3 separate regions of the Homo sapiens genome follow, and regions 1 and 2 are each linked to region 3. Evidence: fine-mapped expression QTL. A gene starts in region 3. Each other region holds a variant in brackets. All regions are shown on one strand. Distances are between the middles of the regions.

Evidence for each region. PIP is the estimated chance that this variant, and not a neighbour inherited with it, causes the effect.
Region 1: its variant is the best candidate, but not a certain one, in a credible set for the expression of CAPZA3 in unexposed skin (GTEx, PIP 0.64).
Region 2: its variant is the best candidate, but not a certain one, in a credible set for the expression of CAPZA3 in sun-exposed skin (GTEx, PIP 0.82).

Annotation. Positions count from the first base shown.
Region 1 is chr12:18,535,293-18,541,649 of GRCh38, reverse strand. It overlaps PIK3C2G (phosphatidylinositol-4-phosphate 3-kinase catalytic subunit type 2 gamma), which reads right to left. Exons shown (of 33, transcript NM_001288772.2): 25 at 3,338-3,494. Among named protein-coding and RNA genes, the nearest start is that of PLCZ1, 200 kb to the left of the region's middle. The variant T/C (reference allele first, on the strand shown) is at 3,607.
Region 2 is chr12:18,641,142-18,647,498 of GRCh38, reverse strand. The region is part of intron 32 of PIK3C2G (phosphatidylinositol-4-phosphate 3-kinase catalytic subunit type 2 gamma); the gene reads right to left. It also overlaps a transcript of PLCZ1 not described here. Among named protein-coding and RNA genes, the nearest start is that of PLCZ1, 94 kb to the left of the region's middle. The variant G/C (reference allele first, on the strand shown) is at 3,786.
Region 3 is chr12:18,734,108-18,740,464 of GRCh38, reverse strand. It overlaps CAPZA3 (capping actin protein of muscle Z-line subunit alpha 3), which reads right to left and starts at 2,346. Exons shown (of 1, transcript NM_033328.3): 1 at 1,277-2,346. The coding sequence starts at 2,196. The coding sequence ends at 1,297. PLCZ1 (phospholipase C zeta 1) reads left to right here and starts at 2,453. Exons shown (of 15, transcript NM_033123.4): 1 at 2,453-2,533; 2 at 2,956-3,104; 3 at 4,121-4,244. The coding sequence starts at 3,094.

The DNA.
Region 1 (6,357 bases), 200 kb after region 3:
TTTTGAAGTCTTTACTTCTGTTCTCTTAAGTCCAAATCTATTTTAACAGTTATGCTCAGAAAAGCAGACACTCTTCCCCATCACATAGAGAAGTTAGGAAGATCTCTGATGGGAAATATCTAATATAATAATGGGTGTGATAAACATTTTAAACTGGGCAAATGGTCTCTGTGTTCTCTGGGAGCCTTCCATAATAGCTGATATTGATTTTTTAATGAGAGAAAAGCTGATGAAACACAGGCTTTTATTTTCGGGAACTCAGCCGGCAATACTCTTGGGTCTCCTACAGATGTTACTTTTAAGCAAGATGGGAATTTCATGGATTACTTTTTACCCCGCTTTTCTCAGGAGTAAATAAAAAGCAATATGGATATCTGGAGACATGCTGCTCTTTACTAAGGATGAGCCATTAACTCTGTAGTGGACCCACCAAATGTCTGTGGCCCATAATCCTGGGGACTGATCATTTGCACAAGATAGAATTTATGACCCATGTCAAGTATTTCTCAAGTTGTAACTGGGTCATGGTAAGTAGACTGAATTCTTTTTAAAGAATTTAACATAAAAGAGTCGGGTTGAGACAGAATTAATGAATAGATTACATACATAAGTAGAAAATAGTCTTTCACAAATTTAAACTTGGTTTTATTTTATAAGAAGCTATACCAAAGAAAGGGTGGTCCTGAAACTTTCACTAAATGCTTTGATGATCTACAGTCCCATAAGATAACACAGTTGAGAAGAAGAGAGTTGAGAGGTAAATGAACAGAAACTGAGGTAATAACACAGTGCTGTTTTACATGTATTTATTCATTAGTTTAATTGGTCCACATTGCTTCTGATCTCTATTTCAATTTCTGTGAGAGCCTAAATCTAAGATTATATGTTTACTCTGGATTAGTGCCTTCCACTGCCAAATTTTCTTCCTTAGCCTAAAAGAGCTGAATAATTAGAGCATAGAAGTTTTTTTGGATATACTATATTCCAGAAATTTTCAACAAGTGATTAATGATAAATTATTTTAATACTTATGAATAAAATACCACAGTTACTTCTTTTAAATAAAATACCACTATACATTCTCTTTGGTGATTGTTTAACATATCATGACTCTTATGCTGAATGCTTTGTTAAGGTATGTAGAAAAGTTTATTAAACAAGAGAAAAAAAGCCCACTGATAGCTTTCTGAAAGAGCTGTTCTTTCACATTATTTTAACATGCTCAGTTTTCATCAGCATAATTTTAGTGTCACCTGAGAAACAGCATAACTTATATTTGTGCTTTTCTGTTTTGGGTTTATTTTTGAAATATCTGGAGCAGGTTAAAGCAATTGTTAAAATTGGGTACTATTCCTCACATGTAGTTATTTATATCATTATAGGCATTTAGAAATGCTGGATACCTCGGTCTTTTATGTAAATAAATTTTATCTTCCTCATTAAGTTGAAAATTTTAAGACTCTGGGTCTCTTATGTTAATGTATCCTTGCAATTTCTAGCCTGTGGTAAACACTCAAGAGCTCATGAATTCATGAGCTAGAGCTTGCTAGAGTCCAAGGAGACATAGACTTGATACTACCTGGATATTTATTATTTAAATGGGGTCAGAATCACAGACTTAATCCTTATAGGGTTTTTTTGTTTGTTTGTTTGTGGTACAGACACATTATAAACCGTAGTCATCTCATACTTGCAAAACGGCCTAATAGAATTGGGAGATAGAATGCAAATTTACCAATAAGAATCCTTGGCTATTACTGAAAAGTAATCTTGAAGATTTCGGAGATGGGTAGAACTTTATATATCCACTTTACACAAGAAGAAACCAATATCTTTGCATATGAAGGACATGTTTATAATATTTTTAGAGATACTTATCTTTCAAGGCAAAGTGGAGAGAAGTAAGGTGAATATGTTGTTTGAAAGTTAAAACAAGAATCCAAATCAAATCTTCCTTGCAACAAAGTCAACATTTGTTCTGTACTAACCAATGGAACTTTTCTGTGGTGATGGAAGTTTCCTATCTGTGCTGACCAATATGATGCCACTAGCCAAACGTGGCTACTGAGTACTTGAAATGTGATCAGTGAAATTGAAGACTGGAATTTTAAATTTTGTTTAATAAAAATTAATTTAAATATAAACAAACGTGACTAGAGGATATTACATTGGACAGTGGCCTTATAAATTAACAAGGATCTAGTATAATAACATAAATGAATTGAAGTCTACTAAATGGCAAGTACTGTGCTAAGTGCTTTATGTTAATGATCTGTTAGGGTTGTTATGAATTTTAAATCAATTAATACACACAAAGCACTTAGCACAATGCCTGGGCCATGCAAAGAATTCACTACTAGGTCATTTATTCATTAACTCTACAAGGTAGATGTTGTTATCTTCATTTAACAGATAAGGAAATAGTCTTTTGGGGGTTAACATGTCCTGAAGAATGTAGCCAGTAAAATGCCAAACTAGGATTGAAACCCAGAAAGGTCTGCCTGCCATGTTTGTACCCTTAACAACATCTGGTAGAATTATTGTCATCTGGAAGCTCTAAATCAGTTATTTTTCATAGACTCCAAATCCCATGCTGATAGACCAAATGTATGTTTCCCATGTATAGTTTGCTGCAATCACTAGTGTGTACGTATGTGCCTAGAGGAATCACTATATCCCTCTCCTAGAAGATATTTCTATCAGATTTTTCTTCCCTCATGGTACATATCTGGTCTCCATCTCTTTAAAGTGAACAGTGGAATAAAACCTTAAATTTTCCCCTGTTGGTCACAAGAGAGTGTGTAGGACCATGACTCAGTACACCTAATGCATACCACGAAAAGCTGAGTTGCTAGCAACTCACTTTCCACTTTTGACTCTCAGTTTCTTAATGTGGGAAATTGGCAAGTGATCAAAGGTGGAGTTTGGAATGGACAGCCAGGGAAAATTCTTGCCTGGTCTACACTATTAGGTTGTCATGATATATAAATGAGATAGTATATATAAGGCATTTTTGAAAGATCCTAATGCCTAGTATGACTGAAGGCATTATTTTTAAAATTACTGTCCTTGAACATTAGTCAAAATATAGTGGGATAACCCCTACCTGCATCAATATTGATACGAATAGGAATGTTTGAGACAATAACTATGAACGAACATATTAAATTATTAAGAAATACGTTTATAAGCTGTACAATGGTACTCTTAGTTTTCTCATTCCTTTCTCTTCCGAATAGCTCCTTGGGGAACTCCAAGCCATTAGTAAAAATAGACTACTGAAGCAGAGGCATAAATGAAGCTTATTATTTTTGTTTTTTTTTCCCAAGGGACTTACCATTTCCAGCAGGTTCAAGAGCAGTTGGCTGTGCTTTCTGATAATATTATAAGCACGACAGCAAAGTTCCACAAAATCTTGAAAATGCTGTGGGTTTTTCCCACCCTCTGTAATAAAGTATTCCATCTCTGAAGTAAAAATGAAAGGAGCTCGGTCCCTGTAAACCAAAAACAGTAGCAATCATTCGAAGGAAGAGAAATGGTTTGTCAGGTTAAATCAGCAGTTATAACGACTTATTTTCATTTGAATTTTCTTTTTTTTTTCTCTAC[T/C]GTAATAGATAAATTTCCTTCATTGTGAGGCAGCTTGAGAAACTGCATAATTGTAGGCTTTGAATAACCATGCTGCAATAGAGAGAAAAGGATAAGATATTTTACAATGTCAACTATATTGTCTGAAATGTTTAATTCTAAATTACATTTGGAGGGGAATATTATTCATTAAAAGTAACATAAAGGCCAATTCATAGTGAAGCTGATATTTATAGAGTCTTTATAAAAAGTACATTTTCTGCTAAATTTTGATATGATCGAACAGATGTGTTTGACCTTATAGTATTAAAAAAAATTTCCTTGTATGATGACCCTTTAGGAAAAAAGTTTCTGGTAAAAGCTAAGAAGCAAGCAGATGTTACCAATTCACTGGCATATGCTTAGTGAAGGAGAAAAAAGGTAGCTATATTTTATTTCACACTGGACCCAGTAAAAACGCTGGTCAGAAAGGAAGATATGAGTAGACCATATCATTATGTAAGTAATACTGACCACTGTAGTCTAAGGATGGAAAAATAAGAAAACAAAAGACCAGAGAGAAGATGGTCCCACGTCCCCCACCTTTGTCAGTTTTTTTATCATGTCATTTAAGATACGGATAGGGCTGAGATGAAATATTAGCAATTCTAACAGAGAATAGCAGAGAGAGGATTGGAAACATCCCTGTTGGAGGAATTACCACTCATTGAATAAGAACACAGAGTTTTGATACCTTAGGCCAATTTGACACTAATTTGGTGAAAGGTTAGACCAAGTAGCAATTTAAAAAGTCATGGATTATTGAGGGAAATTCTTATTTTTGTTTTAAATAATAAAACATAATTGTTTTCTTTTTGTTGCTTATGCTTAGCTATTTCAGTAAAAATACAATGGAGTGAAAAATTTCACTGATCTGACAGTTAATGAGACCTTTCAGTAGTGTGGATATTTATATCAGAAAGCTACAACTTCGTCAATTTGTGGCAGGTTTGGGACAGGGGGGTCTAATTGCAGGCAAAATCTTTAAAATAAAACAAACACTCGAGTTTTTTGGCTATGATTATTTTATTTAGAAACTTTATTTTGTAATCCATGCTACCACAATGCCTGGAGGAAAGGCTGGAATACCAGTACCTTCACTTCTGTTTATATTCATTCATTTCTTCAACAAAATTTATTGAGCACATACATACACTGCGGACTATGTCTAAAGTATCAGGTCTAAATTTTAAAATTTTGGTTCAAAATCCTTTTTTATTTGGCCTTCATTGACTTATCCAACCTATATTCTATGAATTATTTTACAAGTTCTTGACTTTAGCCAAGCTGGGAGAAGAGATGTTGAAAACATGAGATATAGCATAGGTTCTAATTCTGGACCTGCTATGTCTCAATCCTTCATCTCTAAACCACCTAACTCTTAGAATTGCTGTGAGGATTAACTTAGGAAATGTACATGTACATAAATGCCTGACACATAGGGAGGGTGGCACATTTGTGAACTGCTCACATTAGAGAGAGGCTTTTGCAGAGGCACAAACTGTGGGCCTGTGAACCAGGTTTCAAATCATGGCTTCACCACTTAACTATAGTAGTTCTATGACTCTGGGTGACTTAATCTCTCCGTTCTCTAATCTCCTTCTTTGTAAAATGGAGATAAGAGCACTTGACTCTTGGTATGGTTGAGAGAATCAAATGGGTCATAGCATGTGCAAGTGCTTACAACATAGCCTAGCATGTAGTAAGCACTCACCAAATTTTAAATAGTATTGTCTGCAAACAGCCAAGTGTTCTCATAGCTGAACCTTGTTATCACTAAATTTCCTTGTCTCTTCAAAAATCTATCAGAAAAATCTCATCCTTATTCCAAGATTTAATTTACTCTGTTACTCCATGTAACCTCTCTTGCTGCATAAACCCGTAAGTGGATCTTTGAATTTGATAGCATTTTTTTAATTATACTTTAAGTTTTAGGGTACATGTGCACAACATGCAGATTTGTTACATATGTATACATGTGCCATGTTGGTGTGCTGCACCCATTAACTCTTCATTTAACATTAGGTATATCTCCTAATGCTATCCCTACCCCTCTTCCCCCACCCCACAGCAGGCCCTGGTGTGTGATGTTCCCCTTCCTGTGTCCATGTGATCTCATTGTTCAATTCCCACCTGTGAGTGAGAACATGCGGTGTTTGGTTTTTTGTCCTTGCGATAGCTGATAGCATTTTTTATATATTGCTCACTCACTCATCACTATTGCCAATATTTTAGTAGAGTTTTAGCAATATCATAGATTTTCATAATCAGAAAAATATCTTAATTTTATATGTAACAGTTTTCTAATAGTTTTTCCACCCTACTCTCTATGCTGTGTTTACTATATCAAGTAGAACTTCGGAAATAATTTTAGAAGAGTATTAATTTTTTACAACTTCCTGAAACTTTTTCTCCTAATATGATGAATATACTTTTCTCTTTTCAATAAGGAGAATTATGATGGATCAAATTAATTTCTCTTGGGAGGTTTCTGTAGTTATGCTCAAGTTCATGAGATAACACATTTCTTTTGTCCATAGTCACCATTATTAGAAATCAGATGCAGAAACACCATAACAGAAAGTTAAATACACAAAAGAAACATATACAAATTAAATAAAATATAAAGTAATATTAAAGAAACAAATTTTAGTTGTGCTTAAACATTATCATAGTCTAAATTTTCAGTAGATCCAACAAAATAAAATTCTGTATCTTTTCTATATGATTTTC
Region 2 (6,357 bases), 93 kb after region 3:
GTGTTGAAGGTTAATGAGGAAAAGCAGACTATTTTTTTTTTTTTTCAATTTTAGATTCAGGGGAATAGATGTGCAGGTTTGTACCAGAGGTATATTGCATGATGCTGTGGTTTGGGCTTCTAATGATCATGTTGCCTAAGTAGTGAACGTAGCACCCAATAGGTAGTTTTTCTACCCTTGGTCTCCTTCTTGTTTCTTCTCTCTTTTGGAATCTCCAGTCTTTATGGTTCCCATCTCTGTGGCCATGAAACAGACCAATTTCTATGATTTTCCTGTGCTACTTAAATGCAGCACAATGACATTTTCTTGTGCATATGCAGGCATAATACTGTGGTTACTTTTATTTATTCAAAATTACTAATTTTTAATTATGAAAATACATGCTTATTAAATAAAATCTGCATGAAACAAAAAAAAATACCAAAAAGGAAGAAAATAATTGGAATTTTCACCATTGGGAGACAATTACAGTTAACATTTTGATGTTCTTTTTGTTTTCTATATATAATCACTTATTCAGAATCTGACTTGTAATTATGCTGTATATACAGTTTCACGTCTTGTTCTTTTTTTGTGACTTTTTTTTTCAAAAGGAATCTGGTCAGCTGTCCTTTTATAATGTTCAGGAAGTAAGTTACAGGTCCATCGGCAACCTGCAGTGGTAAAGCAACGTAAAGGCATAGTACCGCTAAGAAATTAGTTATTTATCATGAAAGGAGGAGAGAGCTGAGTGGAAATCTGGCATGGTTACCAGGGAAATGTCTTAGAACACATTTAGAAAAGGAATTTCATATGCTGCTACAAACTTGCCTGCTTTTTACAGCCAAGTCACAAGATAGAAACTTTCTCAATATATGCCAAAAAGAAGCAGAAGAGACAACTTGAGAGGGCAGCCCTCTGAGTTCACTGGGTGGCCTCCCCTGTGAGCATGGATTTAGCTTCCAGTACTTTGTACAGCATAGGCTTACCTTTCATTACGTTATCAATGAAATTCAGTTCCAGGTCAATCTGTTAGTGACTCTGAACAATGATTCACTTACCAAGTAAATAGGTTCAATCAAAGGGCATGAGATACAATATGATATGCGAATGCGGTCTACCCTGATCCATGTGAGTGTTCTTGGCTACCTCTTCTTCCAGAATTTTACTCTCATTCCATACAGGAGATTATGGTTTAGTTTTCTGGTGTTGCTCATTCACAATGATATTTTCTTGTACATATGCAGGAGTAATACTGTGGTTACTTTTATTTATTCAAAATTACTGATGTTTTAATTATGAAAATACATGTTCATTAAATAAAATCTGCATGAAACAATTTCATTTCATCTATTGAGTTTTCCTGGGATAATAAAGGATTTTAAGAGTTGCCTTAAAAAATCTCAGAACCCTACCACTGTAATTCATGCTTTTTAACAACTGGATGCCCAATGCTGCCTGGAAATCTTTCTAGGACTTCAGAGTAAACTCCTTTTCCTTTTCTCTAAGTGGGTATTTTGAGCTGTCTGAACTATTCTCCATTTTTCTTCCTACATCATGTTCAGCTGATGAACTCCTCTCTTATTTTACAGAGAAAACAGAAAGGAACCCTCAAAGTGTGACTGTATATGATGCAGAAAAATGGGGAAGTCTGGCTAAGGACTCTGTGAATTGCATGAATAAGTCATAAATTGTAAGTTTTTAAAAAACATATCAATAATTTATATTTTCATGAATCTGTTGTCAACTGTGTGTTTTCTCATTTGTATAATGATGATAATAATCCTTACCTTTTAGCATTATAGGGAGGAAGAAATGAGATAATGAATATAAGCCTTGCTACAAAGCCTGGAACATATTAGACACCAGTAAATTATAGCTGAAAAAGATCCATCAAATACACAAAAAGGAACAGTTGTTTCTTAGTATTTTGCATCAATTGACTGGAGAAAACCCTTCCAGACAGAATTGAGTCTTCCAGGTATTTAGCAAGCTGAAAGCTTCAAGAAATGACTTTAGGAGTTAATTGCTTTCCTGGTTAAAATACAAACATTTGAACTTCCAAAGTTTTTATTACTTCATATATTTTTTCCCTCTGCTTCATTAAGAAAAGTTATTTTCTTAAAAGTGACTGAAGTTTTATAAACCTGTAATCATTGCACATTATAGATGATAAATATCTATTCTGATTGCTTTGGTGCATCCATGATGTTGTTAAATAGTAAGTACTCTTTTCAACTGAGCAAAGAATAATTAGTGGCTAATGTTAGCGAAGTACAGAGATGATTATATTCTTTGAGACCTTTTCGTCAAAGGATTTAATATATATTCTGCATACTCAGAACAAAAAAAAATGGTTCTGGTACATACTCAGAACCAAAAATAAATAGCTCTTTTAATTTCTTTTTCTAATAATTTTTACCTATAGGCATGAGTTAAGTCTTTACTACCTTCTGACAAATAACTAAATGTGTGGGTTTGGAATTATTACGTCTAATAGAAAACACTTAAGGTAATTAATATCTATTAACATATACTGAACATTCCAAGAATTTACTGAACATTAGTTGACACAAGGGTCTAGTAAATAATTCTAAAGTGTATTTTCATGATTGAAATGAGAGGACAATAAGATAGGAACTGAAGTGTCTCTAGTGCTTGTGGGAAGTGGTAGAGGAGGCAGGATAATGAAAGAAAGAGTTCAAAAGCGAGAACAGGGGTACTGCGTGGGAGGAGACAGGTAGGAATAACAGCATAGTGTAGTGCGGTAACCATGAGCTTTGGAATCAGGCAGTTCTGGGCTTGACATCTAGTTGTGTAACCTCTGGGTCACATTGTCTTCACTTACAAATACAATTTTCATCATGTTGAAATTGCAATAATATTATAACACAGATAACAATAACTATAGCTTACTGAGTGTGCCATATACTTGGCATTGTGCTAAGTAATCACTGTATATTCTGCAGGAGATTTTAAGGGATGTAAAATGCATAGAACGTTCCTGTTCTGTTCTTTCTAATTTTCCCTTTACACCTTACAACAGAATAATATATAAGAAAAGGTTACAATATACAAAATATATTGATTATAAGCATGTAATTCTGTCATAGGGTAGAAATTCTGTATTTCTAATGAATTGTGTGAAAAATGATGGTTTTTAAGAAGATGGCAAAAGTAGTGGCGTGGAAAGAGGCTTTGGAGCCCGGAATCCCACCTCTGCTTCTTCAAGCTGTATGGCAGTTCCCTGAGCACTCACACCCCCAGCCCCAGACCCATCTTGAGACCAGCCATGCCTATCACTGGGATTTGTACATGACAGGGGTTTTCAGGGAGACTGCTGATGAAGCCTATTGGGGCTCACTCTGCGAAGTGTCAAATAGACAAGCTTGGCCCTGCATCAAAGCCTTAGTATGGGAAGGGTGGAGACTCTGTCACTTTTCTGTGTCCCCGACCCAGCCCCTCTCATCTCTGGATATTAAGGAGAAAGGAGGATAGGAATAAAAATAAAAAGAACTATTTTCACAAAAGGCTTTGTAAGACATTGGTATGCAGTGTAATATCTTCTTTGTACTCCTCTGAGAGATTTATATAAAGAGGAGAGTGAGGTCATCCTCTCCCACTTCAAGAACAGTACACGGCTTTTACAGTTTGAGAAATCCCAGCTGTGGTGAGTGGTTGATGCAGCAGTACTCAGTGAGGCGGCGGAAGTGGAGGAAAAGTTTAAAACAAGGTAGATGCCCTGTGATAACTCACTGGGCTCTCTAGTAAGCACTGGGCTTATTGGTAAAGACATCTAGTAAGGT[G/C]CTCTTGAGGTTGCACACAAGTGATCGAGGAGTTTGACACAAAGATGGGATCCTACATCACAACTGAGGGCAAGAGACAGTAAAATCAGAGTTAACATCTAGTGTGCTTCTTTGCATTTCTTATAAATATTCTTGTTGTGTTGATACAGGCATAGAATGAAAAAAATTAAATTAACCGTTGTTGCCTTTTTTTCCTTTTGGCTCTTGGAATTCACCCAGCTTCTTTGCCAGAATTGTTTATATGATTAGAAACCTCTTACTGTCCTAATGACTACTACTAAAATCATCACTTATACACACACTACTTCAAATTTCTGCTTGATTGGACTATGTTCTCATCGGAATTGGCTATGCATGGACCATGGCTTTCGAAGCAATTTAAAATGTGTCCAAAGTATAAAGTGTCTATTCATGCTACAAGTATAGATCAATTGAGAAAGATTTGTAGTGAGTTTTAATCAGTGGGTTATGGATGTGTGAGGACCTAGGTATTGCAAGCCCTCAGAAAAGTTATGTGCACAGCAAGAATTATAAAATAATTTTCCATGAATATAATTTACTACTGTTTTCTTATAATACATAAAGCTTGAAATAAAACACAAGTTTATTTAAATTGTTCTGAATTGTTAGTGGTTTCTTGTTATTATATGTTTTCTTATACTGAAAATGCTTATGCCTAACACAGGGTCTGAGAAGTTTCTTGATAGTGAGGCATGGAGACTTGTACTCAAAAAGTATGAAAAGAAACAGTGATATATTGTTGGGAAGTGTATGCTTCTCACTGTTGACATCATGACAAATAATAGTGTCAAAATATTTTTCCTTACCAGTTTAGAGAATCTCTCTCTCTCTATATATATATGCAGTATATACATGTATTTACATTTTATACACACACACACACACACACACACACACACACACACAGTGTCACTTATAAAACTGCCCCGAATATTTATTACACATCATTTTAGAGGTAACTAAGTGTTAAAAGTATTAAAAAGGATAAGACATTTAACCCGCCCTGGAGAAGTTTATGATATACTAGAAGAAAAACCGTGTAGGACTAAAGAAAGGATTATAAGTGTGGTGTGAGTCCACGAGGTGACAGTGTTTGCAGAGTTCACATCTGAGGTCAGTCTCAAAGCAGGCAGAGAAGGGCAGAGAGAGGTGAATGGTGGCATGAGTTCTATCACAAAATCCTACAGTCCATTCAGGGAATGACAAGCTGTCTGATGTGATCTGAAAATATGGCTAAGTATGGGATAACAAAAAGAGTATAAGAACACAAATATTCCCAAGTGATTTTTGACAAACGTGCAAAAGAAATTCAGTGGAGGAAGAATTGCCTTTTCAACAAATAGTACTGGAATAATTGGTATCCACAGTGGGGAAATAAAGAGCCTTGACTTAAACATCACATTTTATTAAAAATTTAACTCAAAATGGGTAATGTACTTAAATGTAAAATGTAAAGCTATACAACTTTTAGAAAAAACTATAAGAGAAAATCTTTGAGACTCAGTGCTAGACAAAGAGTTTCTTAGTTTCGACCCCAAAGGTACCATCTATAAAAGAAAGAATGAATGGAGGAAAGCCTGGTCTAAAAGTGCCTATGAGACATTCAGATGGAGCTCCCCAGTAATCAGGTAGAAGTGTGACAGAGGCCGGGCATGGTGGCTCACGCCTGTAATCCCAACATTTTGGGAGGCTGAGGCGGTGGATCACCTGAGGTCAGGAGTTTGAGACCAGCCTGACCAACACGGCAAAACCCCGTCTCTGCTAAAAATACAAAAATTAGCTGGATGTGGTGGTGGGAGCTTGTAATCTCAGTTACTCGGGTGGCTTAAACAGGAGAATTGCTTGAATCTGGGAGGTGGAGGTTGTGGTGAGCTGAGATTGCGCCACTGCACTCCAGCCTGCTAGACACAGAGTGAAGGGCTCCATCTCAAAAAAAAAAAAAAAAAAAAGCTTGAGAGAGAGAAGCCAGGGTTTTAGGAGTAAATTCAGATGCAACCTACCTATAGGTGATAAATAAAACTTTGTTGATCCACAAGATAAATGTGAGAGTATGTACAGGAAGAGGAGATGAGGATGGATCATGTGACTTCAGTAAACAATAATATTTTAAGAGAAAGAATAACAATGAAGGAAAATGAGAGAGGTGGTAGAGAAATGGAAATAAGTGGTAGAGAAATAAGTGGTAGAGAAAATGGAAGAGAATTAAGAAAAGGTACAACTCAAAAAGCAAAACGGAGGTTTCAGGAATGGGGCTGTGGTCAGTAGTGCTGCTGTATAACTGATCCAGGCACGAGAGCCTGAGGGCTCTTTGGATTTAGCAGTTAGGAGTCTATTGATGCCCCTTGAATAAAGTACTATCAATAAAGGTCAGAATCCACATTGCAAAGCATTCAAGGGTGAAAGGGAGAGATGAAGGGAAAGCAGATCATGTGGGTTAATTTTGGATAAGTTTGGAGGTGATAGTGAGGGAAAGAAAATTTGCTTAGCAAGCCTGAGTTGGGGAGTTTTTGTTTTTGTTTTTTAATATTTCTGAGTGGAGGATCCTGTGGAT
Region 3 (6,357 bases):
TCATAATGAAATAGGCTTCCATGGGGAACTGTTGTACCCTGAAGCATGAGCACTAAGTCAGATACACTTGTCACTATGTGGTACGGTCTGATTGTTTGTGTCCCTCAAAATTTATATGTTGAAACTGAGTCCCCGAGGTGATGGTATTAGGAGGTGAGGACTTTGGGAGGTGATTGGCCATGAGAGTGGAGCCCTCATAAACGATATTAGTGCCATTAATAGAAGTTCTACAGAGCTGCTTTGCCCCTTTTACCATGTAAGGTCACAGTCAGAAAGTCCTATCTATGAGGAAACACACCTTTACTAGGCACTAAATCTGCTAGCAACTTGGTCTTGGACTTCACAGCCTCCATAACTGCGACCAATAAATTCCTGTTATTTGTGAGTTACTCAATATATGGTATTTTGTTATAGCAGCACAAGTGAACTGTGACACTATGTGTCTGGAAGATGTGAACAACTTGAGAACTTAGGTTTTTCTTAGGTACAACGGAGATAATACTAGTACCAGATTAGTGATGAAAAATGTTATGCAAAATATTTAGCACAAGCCATGTTATGTAATAAGTACTTCTAAGTGTTTACAGTGACGACTTCACAAAAGCCTGGCTGTAAAAGTTTGGGAAGTCAGGCTTCTCTGGTTGGCTTGGAAGACCATGTTAGTTATCAGACAAGCCAGGGATTTTGAGTAACCCCAATTCTTGAGGGGAAGAAAGTAGAGTGGAAGAGGAGCCAAAATTACTAATAGTCCTTCATCTGAGCTAGATTTTTGATATCTGTTGGTTTTGTGGAAAATCCAAACCTAATGTCTTTTATTGAAATTCCCCATCTCGTGGATGGTCTAGGACTGAATTGAGTTATGTAAAATATCATTTGTGGAGTGATATTCATTTGTATACCTTTTCAGTTCGAAACAGTCAAAAGTCTCTCTCTCTCTCTCTCTCTCTCTCTCACACACACACACACACACACACACACACACGTACACACCCACACACAGCCTTAACCCTGGCCACCTCTATACTATTTCTGGAATCCCAGATTCTATAAAACTATTTTAGTTTCTAACAAATGTCTTGGTCTTTATGATGGTCACCACCATGAAACACAGTTACTTTACACTTTCTTGCCTTGTTCATAAATATTCCCCAAGTAAAATTACTTGCTACACTTTTCCCATTTAAATTTGCATTGGCTAAGTGAGAGACATCTCTACAGATTGCTCAATTTTAGGAAAATAACCATTCCCAAGAAACACAAACAAGTCAAATCAAGATAGTTACCAGGAGCAATTCTTTATATTATCCAGTTGCACAACACACTTCTTGAATAAATGACATATCCTAATTTAGGATACATCACCAGATTCAAGTCAGAGAGTATCCTGTGCCAGTCAATAAGAGTGCGGGTCACTGGAAGATCCCTTCGTAGAATTTTTCTCAGGGCTTCATTGGATAACTCCTGTAATTCTTCCAAGACTGCAGCTTGAAATTTGTTCTCTTGCTCTTCCACAAGCCTTGCAAAACTTAGAGCCAGTTGAGCTTGGTTAACTATTTCCAAGCTTTCTTTCAGGTCCTTGGATATTTCAATATGAAGGTTGACACACCTGAAGAAGTGAGCTTGCACAAATATTCTTCCCGTTACTTGGGTTAGAAATGGGTTAACTTGGAAAATCCATTTAGATTTCCAAAGTCCGTTCCAGCACTCTCCTGTTTCATAGTTGTGATCTTCAATGCAAGCTATCAAGTACTCCTTACTTTTGACAGTTTTTCTCAGCATGTTGCAATTTCCTTTTGGATAGTGGTCATTCACATACAGTTTTAAGGCGCACAGAAGAACAACTCTCAGGTATTCTGCCTCATTCTGAATGATACCATGACTTTGGATGTCTTTCAGCTGATTTTGAAGCAGGTCATATTTGAAAGAAAGTTTGCTTTGATGGTCAAAAAATCGGTAGTCGCCCATTACATTGTGGTGAGACAAGAGTACTGGATTTCCATCGATGCAGAGTGGTACAGAATATTTTTGGCAGTGTTGGTGGCCTGCACACTCACCTTGGTGGTGCATAAGTTTTTCATCACGGATAAGCAGACAGAGATCATCAAAGGCATTTACAAATTCCCCTGGAGGGGCCTGTAATAACAGTCTGCGAATTACTCTTTCCTTGTCCTTCCTGCTCAGCACGCTAAGTGTCATGTTTGGTTGCAACAGAAGCAAAGCTTCTGAAATGAGGAGTGTTCAAAGGATAAGAAAACATTCCATGAGCCACCTTTCCCATCAAGGTGTTAACATTCAAGCTGAAGGTTTTTATGTCTATCCATGAAAGCAGGCAGTCTGGCAAGGTCTGAGCCTCCTGATGAGGTCATAAGAAGCTTTCCTTGTGAAGTGTGGAACCTCTGATGATATCACAATGGGAATTCAGACCAAAAGGAAAAAATGACAGTCACCTGACAGTGTGGTGCCCAGCCAACCAGCTATACCTCTTTTGAAGATTTTAAGAACTTAGCCTCCTGAACAGTCTTCTTCGAAAGTGGTGTGTCTCTGTGTGCATTATATGTTGTCAACGATCTAGAGAAGCAGCCCAAAGTTTCAAGAGTGACAGCACTTTGCAACTTCAGGAATCACAATGGTGTTGATTTATACTCAGGCTCTCAGAGTAGCTGCCCAAACCCACTGGAAGCATATTATGATGAAAGGTTTGAGGGGTTTAAACAAAGTAGTAAAAAATAAAAGGAGATACAATGGCAGTTCATGGAAAAATGCCAGACATCAGGGAAAGCTGTGTTTTCAAATATTGTGGGTTTGGAGGTGGTCAGAACGTAAGAAGCCAAACAGTTTCAAGGGCAGGGTAGTGCAGGTACCACATCTTGCATACTGTTTCTATGGTTAAGTGTGAGCTAGCTTCAAAGAACGAAGGCAAAAAAAACCACTGTGTGTTCTCTGCTTTCTCCCTAGAAAAGTGGTAACAGCTGATGAGTATCAAGAAATTATTTTCTGCAAAGGGGCAGAGTTAATTGTATTTGGAACCCATGACAGCACCTACTGGGGAAAGACTTCTAAGTGAGGAGAAACGGCTCTACAGGTCATGAAACTATGGAAATGAGATATCCATTGAGAGCTTCTTTCTGCTCCTCTTCTTCTTTCTCCTACTTATCCTCTTTACTTGATGCTGTTATTCTTTTCGAGGAGTTCTGAATTTAAGTCCTCTTCATTTAAGTTGAACTGCTTTTCCCTGTTTGTTCTGAGCTTTTCTAACTTTCCCTGCATTCTGGTATCTTTTTCTTACAAGAACATGAGCTTTGCTGGATTAAGTCATAACTATTAAATTTAAGGAGATCTCATTAATTCGTTCTAACAATCTGAAACTTAGTAGTTTTGCACAATTTTTACCTATACCTTTTATAATTTTAGTGATAATTGTCATTATCTCATTTCGATCTTAGTTTTTCAAATGGAAGTGTCCTAGTTTTTGTAGTTTATCTATGATAAGTAAGCTTTTAAAAATTTTTTTCGTTTTTCATACCAAATATACACTCACCATGGTATTTCTGATGCTTTTTGATGGTACTGTCTTGAGTGTGTGTGTAGCTGGGCATTGGACTAATGTAGTAATAATAACTTTATCAGTCATGGTTACTATTTATTGAACACTAAGTAGCAGAAACTGTGTTCGGTGGCATATTAGGAATTCATCTAATGCTTCCACTTTCCTTAAGATTCAGGGTTAATTTGCTCACCTTTCTGGAAGAGAGAACTAAAACAGAGAGGTCAGGTGAGAGGCGATCTTGAAGTCTAGCTGCCTTCCAACTTCATGCCTTCAGGCAATAGATTGTTATAATGTTTTAATGTATGTTCTAAGTAATGACTTCAATTCTCAAATTTTAACTTTAATTCTTTTTTTTGTATTTTTACTGTGCTATGCCCTTTCATACCTTTACCATAGCATAGTAACTACTTAATTTTGTTTTTTAAAAAATATTTATCATACAATTATACTATAATTTACTTTAAACATATTCTTTAAAAATAAAAATAATACAGTAAATCAAATGTTTCTTTAGGAATTTTAAATATTCAATGACTTTCTGTGAGAATTTCCTTAACTTTTTTGTGCTTCTACATGGTTTTTGTCAAAGATTCAGGATGACTTCAGAGGTGGAAAAATTAACCTAGAAAAAACTCAGAGGTTACTTGAAAAATTAGATATTCGGTGCAGTTATATTCATGTGAAACAGATTTTTAAGGTAAGATGACATCCACCCCCTGCCTATCCTATCCTAGGTGGAACTTAATCCAATGTCAGTAATTGTCATATAAAGGTTAGTCTCTTAAGAAGAAAAGCAATTAATTATACTAACTATATTTACAATCAAGATGGAGAGCATTTCAGTAGAAGGTAAAATTAGTTGTTGAGAAAATCTGAAATAATACCAGGATATCAGTTTAGAATAATTTCCTGAGCATACAGAAATGCTAACATTAAACCTAGGATTGGATGTCTAATTATATCAGACTGATAATGGTAACTGTATTAGATGTTAGTGATTTATAAAAAGAGTGGAGAATAAGCCCAAAGTTAGCAGAAGGGAGGAAATAATACAGATTAGCACAGAAATAACTAAAATAGAAAAGAAAAAAATTAGAAGAAATTGAGGAAACTAAGACTTGTTTTTTTGAAAAGTTAAATAAAATTGACAAATACTTAGAGTAAGAAAAAAGAGAGAGGAGTCAAATAAAATCAGAAATGAAAGTGGAGACATTACAACAGATCTCACAAAAATGAAAAACACATAGAGCAATCATACACCATAAAATTGGACAATCTAGAAAAAAAAGGGAAATTTCAAGAACCATATAACCCATCAAGACTGAACCAAGAAGAACTAGAAAGGTTAAACAGACCAATAACAAAAAGGAGACTGAGAGGCTGTGTGCAGTGATTTGTACCTGTAATCCCAATGCTTTGAGAGGCCAAGGTGGGAGGATCACTTGGGGCTAGGAGTTTGAGACCAGCCTGGGTAACATAGTGAGACCCTGTTTGGAGACTTAATCAGTAATCAAAAACTGCCCAACGAAGAAAAGCCCAGGACCAAATGACTTCACAGGTGAATTCTACCAAAGATTTAAAGAAGAATTAATACCAATCCTTCTGAAATGCTTCTAAAAAATAGAAGAGGGAACACTTCCAGTTTTATTTTATAAGGTCAACATCATCTGGATACCAAAGCTGGACAAAGGCACCACAAGAAAACAAAACTTTAGGCCAATATTCCTGATGAACATAGATGCAAAATTCCCCAACAAAATAATAGCAAATCAAATTTATAGCACTTTAAAAGGATCATATTCCATGACCAAATAATATGTGTCCCTGGCATGCAAGGATGGCTCAACATACAGAAATCAATCAATGTGATACACCACATTAACAGAATGGAGATAAAAATCACATGATTATCTCAAAAATATAGAAAAAGCATGTGACAAAATTTAACTCCCTTTCATGATAACTCTCAGTAAATTAAGTATAAAAGGAACTTAACACATTAAAGTCCATATATGAAAAGCTTACAGCTAATATCATATAAAATAAACTGAAAAGATTTTTTTCTAAGATCTGGGAAAAGGCAAGGATGCCCACTCTCACCACTTCTGTTCAAGATGGTACTGGAAATCCTAGCCAAAGCAATTAGTCAAGAAATGAAAATAAAAGGCAATTAAATTAAAAAGGCAGAAGCAAAATTATCTCTATTCACTGATGGCACAATCTTACATGTAGAAACTCCTGAAGATTTTGTTAACAAACTACCACAAGGCCGGGTGTGGTGGCTCATGCCTGTAATCACAGCACTTTGGGAGGCTGAGGCAGGTGCATCACCTGAGGTCAGGAGTTCGAGGCCAGCCTGGCCAATGTGTTGAAACCTCGTCTCTACTAAAAACACAAAAATTAGCCAGACGTGGTAGTGCACGCCTGTAATTCCAGCTACTCAGGAGGCTGAGGCACGAGAATTGCTTGAACCTGGGAGGCAGAGGTTGCAGTGAGCTGAGATTGCGCCACTGCACTTCAGCCTGGGCAACAGAGCGAGAGTCCTCAAAACAACAACAACAACAACAACAACAAAAACAACTACTAGAACTATTAAATTCAGTAAAGTTGCAAGATACAAAATTACTATGTAAAAATGTGTTGCATTTCTATTCATTAACTATGTACTATCCAGAAAGAAATCAAGAAAACATTTTCATTTACACTAGCATTAAAAAATATATAATGCTTAGGAATAAATTTAACCAAGGAAGTGAAAAACTGGCACACCAAAACTGTAAACCACTGATGAAATAAACTTTAAAAGTTAC